Homo sapiens: one gene and its partners. The protein of the gene in region 3 purifies or fractionates together with the protein of the main gene of each other region. This does not show direct contact. Each region holds a gene or a part of one and is shown on either strand. Other genes may lie near its edges.

What was found. The genes of interacting proteins can lie anywhere in the genome.
Region 1: the proteins of PGM1 (region 3) and ARCN1 fractionate together in Homo sapiens (co-fractionation; one large-scale study listed by BioGRID). This does not show direct contact.
Region 2: the proteins of PGM1 (region 3) and EXOC2 fractionate together in Homo sapiens (co-fractionation; one large-scale study listed by BioGRID). This does not show direct contact.
Region 4: the proteins of PGM1 (region 3) and ANXA11 fractionate together in Homo sapiens (co-fractionation; one large-scale study listed by BioGRID). This does not show direct contact.

What each region holds. Positions count from the first base shown.
Region 1 is NC_000011.10:118,578,909-118,582,408, forward strand, and holds part of ARCN1 (coatomer subunit delta), read left to right. Parts: intron 1-2,337; coding exon 2,338-2,601; intron 2,602-3,500. UniProt on the Homo sapiens protein: Component of the coatomer, a cytosolic protein complex that binds to dilysine motifs and reversibly associates with Golgi non-clathrin-coated vesicles, which further mediate biosynthetic protein transport from the ER, via the Golgi up to the trans Golgi network.
Region 2 is NC_000006.12:487,140-490,639, reverse strand, and holds part of EXOC2 (exocyst complex component 2), read left to right. Parts: intron 1-1,601; coding exon 1,602-1,661; intron 1,662-3,500. UniProt on the Homo sapiens protein: Component of the exocyst complex involved in the docking of exocytic vesicles with fusion sites on the plasma membrane.
Region 3 is NC_000001.11:63,596,411-63,599,910, forward strand, and holds part of PGM1 (phosphoglucomutase-1), read left to right. Parts: intron 1-3,500. UniProt on the Homo sapiens protein: Catalyzes the reversible isomerization of alpha-D-glucose 1-phosphate to alpha-D-glucose 6-phosphate. The mechanism proceeds via the intermediate compound alpha-D-glucose 1,6-bisphosphate.
Region 4 is NC_000010.11:80,195,538-80,199,037, reverse strand, and holds part of ANXA11 (annexin A11), read left to right. Parts: intron 1-3,500. UniProt on the Homo sapiens protein: Binds specifically to calcyclin in a calcium-dependent manner. Required for midbody formation and completion of the terminal phase of cytokinesis.

The sequences.
Region 1 (3,500 bases), on a different chromosome or scaffold from region 3:
TAAAAAAAGAAAAATCCATTACCTTGAAGTGGCATAAATTTTTTTCATGAGATGCATGTTTATTATTACTAATGGTGCTGTTTTACATCATGAATATATGTGCTACAAGTTGTATAGCACTTCTGAAGTACAGTTTCATTATAGTCATTTGGCCCTCATAATAGCTTGTAAGGTCATTAGATAATGCTGCATTTTATAGGAAAAGAAACGAGGTTAAGAGAGGTTGGGTAACTGAAGGTCAGGCAGATAGTAAATAGAAGAACAAAACTAGAAAATAGATTTTCTCACTCCCAGTCATTTAGTTTTTCTAATATCAGCTTGGTTCTTTGCAAATTTGGGACACTAGTTCTAAGTCTTTAGGAAAAGGAGAAACCAATGTGAAATGATCCCAAATATAAGGGAATTCCCTACTTTTCTGATGAAACTATTAAGAAGGAAAGCTTTTTGCCAATTGTATAAACTTTTTAAAATGCAGCCAAAATAGGCCGGGCGGTGGCTCATGCCTGTAATCTCAGCACTTTGGGAGGCCGAGGTGGGCAGATCACCCGAGGTCAGGCATTTGAGACCAGCCTGGCCAACCAACATGGTGAAACCCCATCTCTACTAGAAATACAAAAAAAAAAAAAAAAATTAGCCGGGCGTGGTGGCAGGCGCCTGTAATCCCAGCTACTCGGGAGGCTGAGACAGGAGAATCACTTGAACCTGGGAGGTGGAGGTTTCAGTGAGCGGAGATCTTGCCATTGCACTCCAGCCTGGGCAACAAGAGCAAAACTCCATCTTAAAAAAAAAAAAGGTAGCAAAAATAGTCAAATATGTTCTTAAAATAGTTAATAATTCACTTATATGTATATGTTTTAAATAAATAAAGTTTAATTTAGAAATAATTACTTTTTTCCATTTTCATATTAATAAAACAATTTTTTCTAGATTCTTTATGAACATCATGTCATCACTGGGGCCACTTTTTGAATCATCAGTTTGGTATTTAGCAGTTTTGAATCCATGTGTGATATATTGGCAGTTTGGGAAATTTTATCCCAAGTCATAAAAACCCATTTATATAATATTAGGATAGTTGCTTTTAAAAGGAATATTTTGTAACTGATATTCAACACATGAAATTGTGAGTTCTGGCTAGGCGTGGTGACTCATGCTTGTAATCCCAGCACTTTGGGAGGCCAAGGTGGGCTGATCACTTGAGTCCAGAAGTTCAAGACCAGCCTGGGCAACATGGTGAAACCCCACTTCTACCGAAAATACAAAAATTTGCCAGGCATGATGGCACCTGCCTATAGTCCCAGCTCCTTTCAGGGGGCTGAGGCAGGAGGATTGTTCAAGCCCAGAAGTTGAGGCTACGGTGAGCCAAGATTGCACCATTACAGTCCAGCTTAGGTGACAAAGTGAGACCCTGTCTCCAAAAAAAAAGAAAGAAATTGTGAATTCTGATCCTCAGGATAATTACTAAATCCAGTGACCTTTTGTTAGTACTACATGCAAAACTAGCGTAGTTTGAAGATAAGATGTATCCCAGACAATTATTTTAGTTCAATATAAAGTCATTGAGGGAGCACCTTTAATATGAGAGACTATGGAAGGATTCAAAACTACACAACTCTTTTTTAAAAATATATAAGTATTCCTTACATAAAAATATATTACCATGATAGCATATTTTCACACCTAAAAAATTAGCAATAATTTTTAATATTATCAATTATTCAGTCACTGTTCAAATTTGATTTATACATTGTGATTGATTGACATGTCTAAGTCTCTTAATGTGTTTGTATTTTTAGTAGAGATGGGGTTTCACCATGTTGGTCAGGCTGGTCTCGAACTCCTGACCTCAAGTAATCCACTCGCTTTGGCCTCCCAAAGTGCTGAGTTTACAGGTGTGAGCCACTGTGCCCGTGAAAGTCAGTATTCTATTACTTGTCATGTCAGCTGGTCGTGGTAGTTCACGCCTATAATCCCAGCACTTTGGGAGGCCAAGGCAGGAGGATCGCTTGAACCCAGGAGTTCAAGACCAGCCTGGGAAACATAGCGAGATACTGTCTCTACTAAAAGCTTTTTAAAAATTAGCGAGGCTTGGTGGCACACACTTGTAGTCCCAGCCACTCAGGATTTCTTGAGCCCAGGAGTTTGAGGTTGTAGTGAGCTGTGGTCTTGCCATTGCACTCCGGCATGGGTGACAGAGTGAGACCCTGTCTTAAAAATAATACTACTACTAGTCATGTCACTAAATAAATATGTCATTCTATGGAACATTTCCTGAGATGCTGAGAAAACAGATGTGAAGAAATAATTAGTACTTACTTATGCATATGTTCCTGGCAGGTGCTGTTGGCAGCAGCGGTCTGCACAAAAGCAGGAAAGGCTATTGTTTCTCGACAGTTTGTGGAAATGACCCGAACTCGGATTGAGGGCTTATTAGCAGCTTTTCCAAAGCTCATGAACACTGGAAAACAACATACGTTTGTTGAAACAGAGAGTGTAAGATATGTCTACCAGCCTATGGAGAAACTGTATATGGTACTGATCACTACCAAAAACAGCAACATTTTAGAAGATTTGGAGACCCTAAGGCTCTTCTCAAGAGTGGTAAGAGTACTGCTATAATACTGGGTTCCACTTTTTGTTTTACATTTTATGTGAAACTAGTTTTTCCTCCAAAGCAGCTGATGCTAACCAGTTTGCAGGTTCCTACTCCGCACCCCAGCGACTTATTGCTGCAGCACCTTGTTTATTCAGCAGACATTTATTGGGTGTCCTCTTAGACTATAGATGTCTCAAAAGAATATGGGAACTACTGTTTCATTTCCCAGTTCTTAAGCAGTTGTTCTAATCTGCCGTTCTAGTTCTGACACTTGTTTGGCTATGCTTTTTAGGTAATGTTTTTTAGGTAAGACTTACTGATCCAGAGACAGACACACACACACACACCCCTCTTCTAAGACTTTATGCCAAAGTCTTGCTTAAAATGAAGACTTAGGTAAGACTTACTGATCCAGAGACAGACAGACAGACAGACACACACACACACACACACACACACACACCTTTTAAGACTTTATGCCAAAGTCTTGCTTAAAATGAAGGCTAAGGCCAGGTGCGGTAGCATGTGCCTGTAGTCCAAGCTACTCAGGAGGCTGAGGCAGAAGGATTGCTTGAGGCCAGGAGTTCAAGTGCACAGGCATTATACTTTAGTGTGGGCAACACAGCAAGACCCTGATTCTTTTTTTTTTAAAGACGGAGTCTCGCTCTTGCCCTGGCTGGAGTGCAGTGGTGCAATGGTGCAATCTCGGCTCACTGCAACCTCCACCTCCCAGGTTCAAGCAATTTTCTGGCCTCAGCCTCCCGAGTAGTTGAGATTACAGATGTGCATCGCCATGCCTGGCTAATTTTTGTACGGGGTTTCACCATGTTGGCCAGGCTGGTCTCGAACTCCTGACCTCAGGTGATCTGCCTATCTTGGCGTCCCGAAGTGCTGGGATTACAGG
Region 2 (3,500 bases), on a different chromosome or scaffold from region 3:
ATTACCTAGGAAATACTGGGTTATAGTGTTGATGTGCCTGAGAAGCCAAGTCGTATGCAAATGAAATGTTTGAGGACACTGTAATATGCTTACTCACTCATTTCCAGCATCTGATAACATGGCTTGCTGTCATTCTGTCAGCTTTGCAACTGAAAATACGTTTTCCATTTTTTCCTAACCAATGAAGTTAGCCTTTCATTCCCGTCGGTCACAGCTCACCAGCAGCCATTTTTAGTGGGCCATGTTCACTGTTGAGCCACACCTTTTCCCAGCCATCGTTTGTCTGTACAACATACTAACAGGATGGAAAGCACCCAGCCCATGTTGGATGTGTGCACACTTCATGCAAATGCCTACCCTCTTCCTGCTGACTTAGTTTTAGAGTATAAGGTACTCATCTATAGAGGAAGTTTAAAATATTCTAGGCAAGCTTTTGAGGGTGTTAAATGAGAAAATGTGCCAAATCACTTTTTAATTTTCAGTACCCTGCCAATAATATGTAGTATGTTTATCATTATTGTCATACTGTCAAAACAATTACATCACATTTCTTTCAATTAATCAAAAAGAGGTTCATAAGAAACAAGCTGATGGTGGAGGTAGCGGCAGTGGCTTCCACACCAGGAAAGAGGCCGCTGAATGTGGGAAGGGACCCGAGTGCGCCAAGCCACCCGTCCCACACCCCACCGCGCCCTCCCGGGAGCAGCTGGAGATGCCCAGCACCGGGTTTTATGACTCTGTTGGAACTTTTCAGTCTTTCTCTCTGTTGCTGTGACACTTGCCCCTGATTTGAGGAATATTGCTCAAAAACGTATTTCCTGGTAGATTGAGGATGTTTTTACAATATAAAAGCAACGACCCCCTAAAGTCAAGAATTGCAGTATTTCTTCACCTTAACCAATCATAAGAGAGATAAAAGAACTGTTCCTTTGTGAATGGTACAAGTTAATTACCACAGTCTCCCCTATGATGCTTTTCATTTGGTTTGGTAATTTTTCTAATACTTTCTCCTTGTAAAAGCTAAACATCCCACAGTTTTCTTTTTAAAATTCTTTCCTTTTACCTTCATGTAAAGAACTTACATTGAATTTTTAAAGCATCTATATAGCTCTCCATTTTTCTACAAGTTTTAAGTAGACTGTAATTATTACAAGACATTGGCTGTAGATCAGGCCCTGTGCAGGCCAAATACTGTAAACACCCCACTGTGTCATCTTTCAGAAGGTCATCCCCATTTCTTAGAGTAACTGGATTATCCCCAGCTGCTTGTTTTGAAAAGACTCCTTTTAAATTAAACATGTTCACATTAAGCTCTCCTCTATCACTAGCATCCTTTCGAAGATGTTTTTCCTTTAGCTTTTCAAGTAGCGTTTCATTTCCTATTTGAGTTTTTCTGACCCCGTTGCTACAAAGCCTCCACCTGGTAGCTACACCTTCGCTTTTACTTTTACTTTTTCTATTGTTTTTCACTTTTACTTTTTCTCATATTTCCTTGCTTCACTGGCTTTTATTGGCTTCTCAATAATTAAGGGATGCTTAAGAATTTGTCAGCAGTTCTCCTGTGCAAGGCTTCAACTTCAGTGTGGCTGTTTGTGTTTCAGGTCAAGTTTTAAGCAGGCTTTGGAAGCCCTGCCCCAGCTTTCCAGTGGAGCAGATAAAAAGTAAGTCCTGTGTGCTGTTCTTAGGAGCCAGTTGAATGTGCTCAACAAGGTTTTGTTTCCTAAAATACCTTTTAAAAATAATGATTTGGATTCTAGGAAGAGCAGAATCCAAATAAGAATCAGAATAAGCAGATATACCTACTTAATAGCGTTAGTAGGTACATCTCGTCACCTGTAACTTGCATGTCTTCTGAGTGACAGAATAAGGTAAGACCTTTCTTCTGGGTTTAGGAGAATTTAGAAGTTGGCTCTCGTTTCAAGTGACTGGTATAGAAAAGGTCTTAAGAAAGCTATCTATGACTTATTCAGTAAACTGTATTAGTAGCATACATAAGAAGTAATGGAAAAAAGAAGACAGCATAGTAAAATGCAGGAGTCGGTGATTTTTTTTTTAATTTTTGAGTAATTCAGTAGTATTTATTTTGTGTTCTATAAAATACAAAATGTTATGAAAGTAGATGTGCACATATGGCATAATAAAGTTTTATATATACATATATATTTCATTAGACCACACTGATGATCTCAACCTGAATTTAAACTTTACTACTCATAGAACAGGAAACGGACCTAAGAGAAAATCTAGGCCAGGTAAATTTCATAAATGCCCAGGCTCCCCCGAGCTGAGGCAGTCTTCATTCCTTCACCACCCGCCCTGCACGTGGCTGCCGGGCCCATAGACAGGCACATGTGGTGCACTGACTGAAATGCTGGCACCGTGAATGCAGTGCAGACTCAGTGCAGGGCAGAGAGATCACATAGGCTGGGCCATGGGGGGGAGCTGTCACATGGCATCGACGCACAGAGCAGGCAGCAGACCAGCCCTTCCACCATCAGTCCCCGGGGGCATCGCCGCCCCGCCCCGCACGCATCCCACGTGGGCACATGGCAGCTGTGCAGACAGTGCCTGCACAATCAGCCCTTTCTTCCTTTTTCTTGCTGCTTCTCTAACTTCCATCCTCTATTTGAATTGGTTCCAAACCCTGTTCATTTCTTTAAAATAAATATGATAAAAGATTGAAACAGTCACTGCTACGTTTCATATGTGGAACAGGGCTCAAAAGGTAGTGTGTCACGAACAATACACACCCTGAAATGGCCCCAGGTCAGGACTATATTTTAGATTTGCTGTGGGGATAGCATTCTAATATTGAACATTGTTAAACCGTGAAATAATCTCTTGACCTCAGTACTGTTAAACCCAGTTCTTGGTTGCTGCATCCAAACCAGGAAAACTCTAAGATCCTTCCTAGCTTTAAAAATTAGATGACTTGGGCCGGGCGCAGTGGCTCATGCCTGTAATCCCAGCACTTTGGGAGGCTGAGGTGGGCGGATCACGACTTCAGGAAATCAAGACCATCCTGGCCAACATGGTAAAACCCCGTCTCTACTAAAAATACAAAAATTAGCCGGGTGTGGTGGCGGGCACCTGTAGTTTCAGCTACTCAGGAGGCTGAGGCAGGAGAATTGCTTGAATCCGGGAGGTGGAGGTTGCAGTGAGCCGAAATCGCGCCACTGCACTCCAGCCTGGGCGACAGAGCAAAACTCCATCTGAAAAAAAGAAAAAAAATTAGATGACTGTATCACATCAGTTGGGGAAACAGATTGCGATATCAGGCAGCAAAGCGATTTGCCTAGTGGAATTAGCCCCTAACCCTGCTTGCCCTGGTGGTTAACTCACTGCTTTCGCTCCCCACTCTCTAATACCTGTTAATACAAAATGAGAGGAAGGGAAAGTCAGCAGTGGCTGCTGGGAGATGGGGTTAGGGAAGAGGCTGACTAGAGGGGCAGCAGGGGAAAGGGTGCAGCCATGCCACGTGCTGTAGCCTGTTACACTCC
Region 3 (3,500 bases):
CACACCTGGCTAATTTTTATATTTTTAGTAGAGATGAGGTTTCACCATCTTGGCCAGGCTGGTCTCGAACTTCTGATCTCAGGTGATCCACCCTCCTCGGCCTCCCAAGGTGCTGGGATTACAGGCGTGAGCCACTGCGCCTGGCCTATTCCCTAGGTTTCTACGCTCAGGTTGTTCTCTGATTTTGTTCACTCTCTCTACTCACTCGGGATTTAAATATGCTACTCTTTCTCTTGTGATATGATTCAGTCCAGATGGCATCTTCAGAAACCTTTCTTGACACCCCATCCCTACCACTCTTCTCCACCTATTAAGTGCTCCTTTCCCATAGATAATTCTAGAATATATATATTAAATTCTAGTGAAATTTTCCGTTTACATGTCAACGGCCTCCAACTAGAGAGTAAGCTTCTTTAAGTCAGACCTGTGTTTTACCTGTATCTGCAATGCCTAGGACTATGTAGCATTCAATGAATTCTTGTTTATTTGCTCTGAACTGTGAGTCACTTTTGTATTCTAGCACTTGATTTAAAGCCAGCATGTAGCTGGTGACCAATAAATTTATTCACATCAAACATTTATTATGTGCTTGCTTTGCCTCAGACATTGTACTTGAGATACAAAATATTTTTGCCCTTGGGAAAGACATAGTCTGGGAGGGGTGGTATACAGGAGTAAGCAGACAGCACAATGTGTCAGGTGTTGTGATGGAGGGATGTGCAGGTGTCTTTAACCTGAGGGGCTGTACTTGGGAGGGGAAGATGAAGGGAGGGAGGCTCCATAGAGGGGTGGTAGCCGAATTGAGTCTTAAAGAATGACTTGGAGTTCCCAGAGTGGGTTTGTCTGGTAGGAGGAATTCTTAGCAGAATGAATACAAATTGAGGGAGTTTAGATTAGATACAAATACAAATTTCTAGTCCTTTTTTGTTTCATCCACAAAGGTTGGGAATAATACATACCTGAAGAGCCTGTTGTGAGGATTAGATGAAACAACATATTTACAAGTACCTCACTTGGAAACTGTTCGAATGATAGGTGTGTTATCAATGTTTTGTTGGTATTAGGACACAATCCAACGTGATGCAGATATGAGCCACCCAGATGGTCTCCCACCTTCCTCTAATCCTCAACAGCCTCAACCAATATAGAGGGGTTCCGTGTTAGTCAGAGCCCAATTGGGTACAAATGACAAAAACCTTACTTGGATTACTCCAAGTGAAAAAGGAATTTTATTGGCCCATGTTACTGAAAAGTCCAAGAGAATCCCAACGAATTCTTTAGTTGAAACTATTCCTGGTCTCTAAAAATCACTTCTGGGTCTAATGATCTGCAAATGACCAGCATCAGAAATTGAGGAGAGTTTAAGCTCACAAATGAATGTGTGCATGTTTTGAAGGATGATTTATCACCACCCTAAGCAAAATAAAATAAATACCTTTGTGGGAACTTATGAGCAAGGAGGGTATTTGTTGTTGTTGTTGTTGTCAAGTTACAGGGATTCTTTTGTCACGGCTCCTTTGCTACTCATTTGTGCAAACTGTGGAGCCCCTTCTCAGAATATATATTTTTAAAAATTTGAGACATGGTCTTACTCTGTTGCCCAGACTGCAGCACAGTAGCGCGATCGTGGCTTACTGCAGCCTCAGTCTCCCCAGGTTCAGTTGATTCTCCCACCTCAGCCTCCTAAGTAGCTGGGGTCTACAGGTGCATGCCACCATGCCTGGCTAATTGTTTTATATTTTTTGTAGAGATGGGGTTTCACCAAGTTGCCCAGGCTGATCTCGAACTCATGGGCTCAAGCGATCTGCCTGCCTCGGCCTTGCCTCCCAAAGTGCTGGGATTACAAGTGTGAGCCATCGTGCCGGGCAGAGTATTTTTATTTTTAAGTGAATAAAACAAAATACAAACCATTACAAAGGAAGCAAAATTATATTGAAGTATAATCAAAATATTAAAAAACCAGATTTGTGATATATCAAGATAATGCTTCTTTACTGACATAGGAAGATTTGTGGAGGATTTAATACTGCCTTACTTCAAAGTAGTGGTGAGTATAAATGATGTTTTGAGACGTCTGCAATCTCAGTATTTTGAGATAACTATAATAGGATATGAAAATATAATTTTTATTGATGATAAATTCCTAGGTAGTAGTAGTAATAGTAGCAGTAGTAGTAATAATACTGTGGTTTGCTTCCTACATTTATAATAAAAGGAGGTGCTAAATTTCAGTTAGATGTTAGTGAAAATAAAGATTGTTTTGTTTATTTTGTCATTCATATTCATGGATCCCATTGAATTCTACCCAAGGACCTCTTGAGGTAGGGGAAGGGGATGTAAGCATCCCAAGTTAAGAACCCCACACTAAACAATGATCCTTTTTTAGCATCAGGTGATGCCTGCACCAAAATGGACCTCAAACACATGACCCAGAGGTTAAGGGTCTCATGTTCTCAGAGCAAACTAGTGGGACTTTGCAAACTTCGCCTTATAGTGGAGGAACTCCACTGTCTCCCGCTTGAAGTGAACCACCCTTTTCTGAACTTTCATGAGATCCATCTGCAAACACTGCTGAAGGAACATGTTTCTGGCTATAGCAGTTCACATTTCTTGAAAAGGAAATAAAAGAACACTGAGCAGGAAGGGGAAGGTTTTGAGACTCTTGGGTAGTTGGAGTTAGGTGGAGACACCTTGCTACTTTAACTTTAAACCTTATATCCCTGGGGCAGGGATGACTTGGCAGAGAAACACCTTCAAGTCACTTTTTTTTTTGAGACACTGTCTTGCTCTGTTGCCCTAGGCTGGAGTGCAGTTGCAGGATCTTGGCTCACTGTAACCTCCGCCTCCTGGGTTCAAGTGATTCTTCTGCCTCAGCCTCCTGAGTAGGTGGGACTACAGGCGTGCACCACCATACCCAGCTAATTTTTGTATTTTTAGTAGAAACGAGGTTTCACCATGTTGGCCAGGATGGTCTGGATCTCTTGACCTCATCATCCGCCCGCCTCGGCCTCACAAAGTGCTGGGATTACAGGCGTGAGCCACCACACCCGGCCCAAGTCACTTTTTAACATGCTGTAACCCCCACTTTAAAAAAAAAAAAAACCACTTTTTAATTATGGTGGGGCCGGGCATGGTGGCTTACCGCACTTGAGTGGGTCACTTGAGCCCAGGAGTTCCAAACCAGCTTGGACAACATGGTGAAACCCCTTGTCTACAAAAAATAAAAAAACTTAATCTGGTGTGGTTTCGGGCGCCTGTGGTCTCGGCTACTTGAGACACTGAGGTAGGAGGATCACATTCACCCTGTGAGGTCAAGGCTTCAGTGAGCTGTGATTGCACCACTGCACTCCAGCCTTGGCGATGGCAAGACCCTGTCTCAAAAATAAATAAATAAATAAATATAAAATGAATTATGGTGGGCTTTGAACAATTGTTCTCCCCTTGTTTACACTTTCTGATTTTGAATCAGCACTGAATGCCAGTATGGATAACCTATTGTC
Region 4 (3,500 bases), on a different chromosome or scaffold from region 3:
TGGTTGAGGGTGGATGGAGGTTGACAGAAGGCAATGATAACAGCAACAAACCTAATTGCATGGTTTCTGTCTTTGGTAGAGGAATTCTGACTGTTGACATACCAGATATACTTGATTTTATTCTTTGCATCTTGCTTATTACTTATTATACTTGCATGCATTCCTTTCCTGATTTTTGCTGTTGGGTTAAGTTTCTCATCGTCATCTTCCCCACGCCACCTGTATTACGTTTCAGGTTTGGTTGTGAATGAAGAGAGGAGCCCCGTCTCTCTCTCTCTCTCTCTCTCACTCACTCTCTCACTCTTTCTTGAAAAATCAGGGTCGAGGTTAAGTGTGTGTTCCATGAGATTGTCTTGGCACCAGGCTCCTTATGGACTGTTGTCCCTAGCATTCTCAAGGGCTGTGGTTTTCAAACTTGAGCATGTATAAGAACAATCTGGAAGGCTTGTTAAAGCATAGATTCTTGGACTGCACCCTGAATCATTCTAATTTAGGAGGTCTGTGATGGGACCTGAGCACGTTAATTGCTTACAGGCTCCCATATTGTATAATGCCGCCGGGCCACATGTTGGGTAGCACCGTCTAGGTGCCTCCCTTAACTGCATGGCCCAAGACAGCTCACTTTCACATCCCCATGGCAGGCCCTCCTAGCTGCTAGGGGTCTGGAAAGCAGTCCTTAGTGGGGGCTGCTGTGTGCCAGGCTATGGTGTGTTCTGTTACTAAAGCAAGAGAGAACAGATGGTTGAGGAGGACAATCAGAAGTTTCTGGAACACCACCCACTGCTCTCCTGAATTTGAAACTACTACTATGCTTATCAGTCTTGCTGTTGGCTAAGCCTGTGTTCCTCAGGTTAGGAAGTGGGAATGGTTTCTCATGACAGTGGCAAGCCCGCAGGCAGTGCAAGCAAGGCAGCTTCTGTTCCTGTGGGCTGGTGCACAAGCTGGCAAGCTGCTGTGGCTTTGCTGATGCCCCGAGAGTCATCTGCTGCTCCCAGCCGTCAGGTCTGGCATCCGCATACTCCATTGCTGCAGCCACCACCAGATCTTCCAGACCCCATGGGATCGAGGGGCCCCCTCCAAGACCCAGTGGGATAGGGGTTATTTTTTTTTTTTTGAGACGGAGTCTCACTCTGTCGCCCAGGCTGGAGTGCAGTGGCATGATCTCGGCTCACTGCAAGCTCTGCCTCCTGGGTTCACGCCATTCTCCTGCCTCAGACTCACAAGTAGCTGGGACTACAGGCGCCCGCCACTGCGCTTTGCTAATTTTTTTTGTATTTTTAGTAGAGACGGGGTTTCACCATGTTAGCCAGGATGGTCTCGATCTCCTGACCTCGTGATCCTCCCGCCTCGGCCTCCCAAAATGCTGGGATTACAGGTGTGAGCCACCGCGCCCGGCCAGGGGTTATTTTTTTGTGCTACCTCCTCCCAACTTCCCTTCTTCAACCCCAAATATGACACCTAGGTGACTGTTTCTAGGAGAGTTTGAGGGCAGAGGCTATTTGAACCCTGAACTGAGGTGGGGGTGATGTTCGGTCTCCGTGGCTGGTAATATCCTTGAGAGATCAGAGCAGTGGTTGCCAACCCCCATTCTCTGTTGTCATCACACATAGGGAGGGGATCTGGAGAGAAACAGGGTCATAAGGCTCCTATGGAGTGGCTGGTACTTTTCTGAGTGGCTTGATTATATGGGACATTATTTGGGAGGCAGTAGTAACTTTCTTCTCTTTCCGGGGTTTAACCTTTGTATTTCTCAAGTCCATTCTCCAGCCTGAGAAGGTGTGATGGAGCCCAGAAATACGTTGAGTGGTTGGGGACCAGCCTGGTTCATAATGCACTGGCCTGGAAATCCAGAGATGTGGTTCTAGTCATTGTCCTGCCCCCAGCCAGCTCTGAGACCTCAGGCAGAGTCTTTCTGCTCTCTGGGTCTCAGCTCCCACCTCAAATAAAATAAACAGGTTGAATGAAATGATTTCATGAAGGCCCTTTCCAGCTCCAGTATTTTAGGATTCTTATGTAATCCAAATGCTAGTGCACTGGGAATTGACTTTATCTTGAAGAAGTGTCTTTCAGAACCTGCTTGCTCAAGTTCAGCCCCTTGGTGAGGCTCCGGACGCTGCCACTCTCCCAGCCTGCCTTGTCTGGAGTTTCTCCAGGCTGAGCTGCCCCAGGTGCCAGCCCTCAGAGGGGAGGTCTGAGGTGCAGCCTGGCTAATGATTAACATACGCTACAGCTATTTTAGTTCCTGGCATGTGGGTGGGGAGTTGAATGCTTAACAGCACCTGTGTAGGCTTTTTGTTTAGTGCCTGGGAAAATATGGTCAGGGTTGGTGGAGTGCTGCCCTGAGGCTGGCTGGCTGGCTTCGGTGACTTAATGGCACCTGTGACCAGCAAGGGCAGGACATTGGGGCTCTGGAGTGCACGCCCAGGGCCCCCACCCCCTTCTCAGTAGAGCTGGAGATGTTCATACTCCCACTCACATCACTTAAGGTCCTGCCTTGAGGTGGGGGAGAGAGGGGAATGTCCTAGATGTGTCCTCCCTGCCCCCAGAATTCCTGGGGCCTACGTAATAGAGGCTACCGAAACAGGTGCCACCCAGAGAGTGAAAGAAATGAGTCAGAGTCCACCGGGGTTCCTGCCAGTATTCAGTATGTGTCAAGGGCCTCACAGTGCCAGCCCTGTGGCAGGTGGTGGTGGGGGACAGGAAGAGAGGCCTGTCCTACAGCCTGTAGCACTGATGCTCTCATGGGGAGGCCTAGAAAAAAAGTGTCTGGCTCTGGCACTTGGGTGTGTGACCTTTGCATGTCAAGAGTCAGCTCAGCCTTCGTTCCCTTGCTTATAAAATGAGGATGATAATACCTATCCAATAGGAGCATTGTGGAGGTTAATGAGGTAATATATAGGGATGTAATATATGTATCTATCCTAGGAGTTAGAAAAAGGAGAGCTTATTAGAACATTAGAGAACATGGAAAACATTTTAGGACAAGTGCTGTGAGAGTTCCAAGAAGAGTGAGCATTGTGGATAGGAGATCAGGGTGGGCTTCCTGAAAGAGATATGGTATGGTTTGGCTGTGTCCCCACCCAAATCTCGAATTCCCTCGTGTTGTAGAAGAGACTTGGTGGGAGGTAACTGAATGGGGCAGGTCTTTCCTGTGCTATTCTCGTGATAGTGAATAAGTCTCACAAGATCTGATGCTTTTATAAAGGGAAATTTCCCTGCACAAACTCTCTTCTCTTGTCTGCTGCCATGTGAGACGTGCCTTTCACCTTCAGCCATGATTGTGAGGCCTCCCCAGCCACGTGGAACTGTGAGTCCATTAAACCTCTTTCTTTTGTAAATTGCCCAGTCTTGGTTATGTCTTTATCAGCAGTGTGAAAATGGACTAATACAAGGTGGAACTTCATCTGGACTCAGGGAAGGCCAGGAGACAGGAGGTCAGACCAGCTAGAGGGACCACCTAAGCAGAGGTGTCCTGAAAAGGGAAAGTGCTGAGCTGGGCT